Regions from separate parts of the Homo sapiens genome. Here region 2 is linked to region 1. Evidence: fine-mapped expression QTL. Tissue or cell type: whole blood. Region 1 holds a variant in brackets; the other region holds the start of a gene. All regions are shown on one strand. Distances are between the middles of the regions.

Region 1 (2,749 bases):
CCAGCATCTACAGGGCCAGACGTGGTGGCTCACCTGAGGTCAGGAGCTCGAGACCAGCCTGGCCAACATGGTGAAACCCTTTCTCTACAAAAAATACAAAAATTAGCTGGGTGTGGTGGTGCGCACCTGTGGTCCCAGCCACTCAGGAGGCTGAGGCAGGAGAATTGCTTGAACCCAGGAAGCAGAGGTTGTAGCGAGCCAAGATCATGCTACTGCACTCCAGCCTGGGCGACAGAGCGAGACTCCATCTCAAAAAAAAAGTAAAGCTGCAGCCAGCATCCCTCTCACCTCGCCTTCCTAATTAGTGAAATGAGTCTTTCTGGCTCCATCAATCCATATGCACCTTTTTTTGGCCAGGTGCAGTGGCTCACGCCTGAAATCCTAACACTTTGGGAAACTGAGGCAGGAGGATCGCTCGAGCCCAGGAATTCGAAACCAGCCTGGGTAACACGGTGAGACCCCATTTCTACAAAAAATATTAAAATTAGCTGGGTGTGGTGGTGCACGCCTGTAATCCCAGCTACTCAGGAGACCCAGGAGGTCAAGACTGCAGTGAGCCAACATTGTGCCACTGGACACCAGCCTGGCGACAGCAAGACCCTGTCTCTGTCTCTCTCTCTCTCTCTCTCATATATACATGTATACGAGGATGTGTGGGCAGGCAGACCCAGGAAGACACCAAGTGCATTTTCAGCATAAAGAGCAGGTGCAGTTATTCCCAGGACAAAGCCATTTCTGCCAGTGCTGTTATGCGCCTGCAAATGCATGAAAAAGCCTGGGAGGCCACCAGACTGTCTTGATGCTACCTCGGGGCCCGGGATTCAGGAGCTGGGCTCACTGCAGGCTTTGCTCACATGTCTCTAGATTGGATTTCCACTTGCTCTCAGCAGAAATTACTTTTAAAATTAAAAGAATGGACATTGCCACTTTAAAGGCAGTGGAACAAGCCCTCGTGAGTTGGGTTGGAGGGAGCCTGGCGCCGGCCCTACCTGCCCAGGATGAAGGCGATGTAGATGAGAGACGAGAAATGGGTGAAGAACTGCAGTGTGAAGAAGCGGATGGTGAACCTGCTCTCTCGCTCCGAGAAGGTCCTGGGCATCTCTGGAATGGGACCGGCCCTCACCTCTCTCCCTGCTCATAGGAGAGGCCCTGGGGCAGCAGGAAGGGTCCCCTCCCCTGCTCTCTGACCACAGCCCCAAGGCCCCAGCCCTGAGTCCTCCCGCCGGGTCCCCCAAGAGGGTCTGGGGTAGTCCTCTCACCGAAGTCACAAAGCTTCAGGGCCACGCACCTGTTGATCTGCGGAGGAGGGCACCGAATGGGCTCACTGGGGCTCCGGTGGACCCCCCAGCTCGGGCCTGCCCTGCTCCCGGCCCCACCTTGGTCATGATGA[T/C]GATGGTCACATAGTGCACCAGAGCCCCGGTCACCACCACGGCCGTGGTCACCTGCTCCTCCAGGAAGGGCACGGCCGAGCTGCTGAAGAGCGCGGAGGCCAGGACGCGGTAGACCACCAGGACGTGGGCCATGCCGATCATGAGGCAGATCTGCGGGACAGCTGTGGTGGGCGGGGGCCGGGGAGGGCATGCAGCCCGGGTCTCCAGCCCCACCGCGGTGTCCCCTGCGTACCATGAGCAGGGTCAGGACGAGGATGACGGTGCTGCGTAGGTAGGAGTGCTGGTATGGCCGGAGCTTGTAGTCGGGGCAGTTAATGAGCTGAAGTGCCATTTCCTCCTGGGGAGAGCACCGGGCAAGCCTCAGACAAGGGACACTCACCCCACATGTGGGGAGACAGACACAGAGACACACCTCACGGGTGGACAGACACGGGACACTCACCCCACACATGGGGAGACAGACACGGGACACGCACCCCACACGTGGGGAGACAGACACAGGGACACGCCTCACGGGTGGACAGACACGGGACACTCACACCACACGTGGGGAGACAGACACAGGGACACGCCTCACGGGTGGACAGACACGGGACACTCATCCCACACGTGGGGAGACAGACACAGGGACATGCCTCATGGGTGGACAGACACGGGACACTCACCCCACACGTGGGGAGACAGACACAGGGACACGCCTCACGGGTGGACAGACACGGGACACTCACCCCACACGTGGGGAGACAGACACAGGGACACACCTCACGGGTGGACAGACACGGGACACTCACCCCACACATGGGGAGACAGACATGGGACACGCACCCCACACGTGGGGAGACAGACACAGCGACACGCCTCACGGGTGGACAGACACGGGACACTCACCCCACACGTGGGGAGACAGACACAGGGACACGCCTCACAGGTGGACAGACCAGGACACACGCCCCACATGTGGGGAGACAGACTCGGGACACACACCTCAGACACGGCAGGCATATGTGGGCCGTGCAGGGCATCGGGCGCCAACAGCCCCTGCTCGGGTCGGCCTCAGCTGCGCTGCCAGCTCCACCTCACCTGTTCCTCGTCCCACACGTACAGGTCCCAGTGCAGGACCACGCGGGCGCGCTGCCGCTTCCAGATCTCCAGGAACACCGTGGCTGCGGCGGGGGCAAGGAGGGGCATCACTGCACTACGCCAGGTGGACCTCGGAGCTTGGGCTGGCACTTCCCCTGGCCCCGCAGAGGCGTCCCGCAGCAACTCACCCCAGAGAGCCATGAAGATGGCGAACACCACCGTGCCATCATTGTCAAAGAGGTGGGTGAGCTGGGGGGGTGATAGGTGGGCCGGAGAGG
Region 2 (2,500 bases), 110 kb after region 1:
CTTGCAGCCCCGGTGGGGTTCCGGGCGGCGGGCGCAGCCGTGTGCCCTGGGGCCAGGCGTGAGAACGCCCCCTCCACCACTCTCCTCTTTCTCGGGCCTGCGTGGCAGGCGACCCTGCCCGCCCAGTCCCCCCAAACTTGAGGTTCCAACGCTGCAGAAGCTCAGCGTGGTCCAGTTAAACCGTACCCACAAGTTGCCACAGGGGAGCGAAGTGCCCAGGGCTCACCCCAAGCACATAGACGCACATCCTAGCTCTTTCAAACCCAAAAAGACATGTTTTTAACATTTTTTAAAATTGCAAAGGAATCAGAAATACATCCTCATTAAAAAACAAAAAGGGCCGGGCGCGGTGGCTCACGCCTATAATCCCAGCACTTCGGGAGGCCTAAGCGGGTGGATTACTTGAGGTCAGGAGTTCAAGACCAGCCTGGCCAACATGATGAAACCCTGTCTCTACTAAAAACACAAAAAATTAGTCGGCTGCAGTGGCGCGCGCCTGTAGTCCCAGCTACTCGGGAGGCTGAGGCAGGAGAATCGCTGGAACCCGGGAGGCGGATGTTGCGGTGAGCCGAAATCGCGCCACTGCACTGGGCAACAGAGCGCTACTTCGTCTCAAAACAAAAAAGGCGTTTTACAGTCAGGCAAACCCTGCCTCTGCCCAGTCCAGCGCCCGCCTCGCCCTCCTGCGCCGGTCGCTGCTGACCCGGGGCTCCACCCACGTGCGGTCCCGGGGGTCCCGCCTGCCGTCCGTCCACCGCGCGGTCGCAGTCAGAGCTCGGCTCGGGGCGGACACGCATGAACGCGAGTGAGAAGCGGCGACTGGACGGCGGGCGGCAGCGTGTCCCGCGGGCCGGGCACTCGGGTGCGCTCCGGCGTCCGGTGTGTGTTTCCTGGTCCTCGGGGGCGCTTCCCCCGGTGCTTCCTTTTGCCGTCGGCCTCACTTCCAACCGAAGGTCAGGACGGCAGGCCTCGGCCCCAGGGGCGACCCTTCCACCTGGGAAAGGTGGGCGCGAGCCTCCAGCAGAGACCGCCTTTACCCGCCCCGCGTGGGAAGCGCCAGGATCGCGAGGAAACGCGACACGTGCATCGCGACGGCCCAGGCACGGAGCCGCAGGAAGCTGGCACCTGACGCGCCTGCGCCCACCCAACTCGAGTTGGTGGCGCGTCACCTTCCCCTGGGATCGCCCGCAGCAGGGGCGCCCACGCACGTGCCAGTCCACGTGGCCCCGCCCTAGCGACCGTTGCTAAGGGGCGTGGCTCAGCCGCACGGAACCCGAGCCCCCGGCGACTTATAAATATTTGCGTATTCAAATGAGGCCTGGCTCCCGTTGCTATGGCGCCCAGGCCGCAACCCCGCGGCGGCCGGAAGAACAGCCTGGAGTAGGAGACAGCGCCTGGAGGTGGAGGGCGCCCAGGGCCGAGCTGCCAGGGCCGGACACCTAGGCTGAGCCCTCAGGTGAGAGCCGAGCGCACCCTTGGGGTGGGAGCCGCAAGCCTCGCCCTATGACCGGTGCCAGGAGGGAACCTGCGCCGAGGCGTGGGCGCGGGGACGAAGCAGCACAGCCATCGGGGACCCAGTGATGGCCCCGCATGTCAGATCTGGTCCCCTGAGGACCCTTGCCTCCACCACCCCCTGGCCCTGCACTGAAAGGGCTCCCTGTCAGGAGACAGGAGGGGCCCCAAGCCCTGCCCCTGAGGGAGACTCAGAGGCAATGACCCAGGGTGCTCAGGGTTCCAGGGTGGGGCTCAGGAGGGGAGCGGGCTCTGCCTTCCGAGCCCCCATGGTGAAGGGGCGAGGGCAGCAGGGGACCCAGAGGTGATGGCTACCCACCAGGGAATGGCACTAGCAGGGGTGTGGAGACAGGCCCCCCAGTTACCAATTTGGGGAGCATGGGGGCTTGCAGAGGGGACACAGGGTGGGAGCAGGGCCGTGAAGTGTGTGGATGGGTTCAGGCCTGGGTGAGAACACTAGGTGCAGTGTCTGAGGTGGGAGTTCAATGGGGTCTTTGGATCCCACAGCCTCCAACCCCTTGCACCCCCAGGCCTTGGGGCTCAGACCAGTCTGATGCTTGGGGCTCTTGGGCACAGAGGAGACAAGGGTAGCTGACTCAGCCCTTAGTGTCACCCATAGGTGTCCAGGGGCTGCCCGTGACCCCGCCAGCTCACGCCCTCCATGAGGCTCGAGGCTGGCAGGCCTGGGATGGAGGTGGCCAGAGTCTTTGGGGGGATGCAGTGTTGGGGTCCTGCTGTGAGGCCTGGGGCCTTGCACTGGCTGGAGAAAGGCAGGCAGTGGGGGAGATTTGGGCTGGAAACTCCATGAGATTCTGCTTTGGGCTTCACTTCTTTGATCCTTGGTGCATGGTCACCTTCCAGACCAGGCCAGTGAGGCACCCAGAGCCTGAGCCACTGCCCCGCTCCAACACTCCCACCCACCACCTCTGTCAACAGCCGGCCAACTCGCCTGGCACAGGGGCAGCTCTAGACGGGATGGAGAGGATGC

What was found. PIP is the estimated chance that this variant, and not a neighbour inherited with it, causes the effect.
Region 2: it holds the start of LRRC56, and the variant in region 1 is fine-mapped to the expression of LRRC56 in whole blood (INTERVAL, PIP above 0.99).

The regions. Positions count from the first base shown.
Region 1 is chr11:427,099-429,847 of GRCh38, forward strand. ANO9 (anoctamin 9) reads right to left here. Exons shown (of 23, transcript NM_001012302.3): 10 at 2,660-2,720; 11 at 2,472-2,554; 12 at 1,624-1,728; 13 at 1,377-1,541; 14 at 1,260-1,296; 15 at 990-1,101. Among named protein-coding and RNA genes, the nearest start is that of SIGIRR, 13 kb to the left of the region's middle. RefSeq lists an enhancer at 1,448-2,647. The variant T/C (reference allele first, on the strand shown) is at 1,391.
Region 2 is chr11:536,150-538,649 of GRCh38, forward strand. LRRC56 (leucine rich repeat containing 56) reads left to right here and starts at 1,378. Exons shown (of 14, transcript NM_198075.4): 1 at 1,378-1,456; 2 at 2,449-2,500. RefSeq lists an enhancer at 1-86.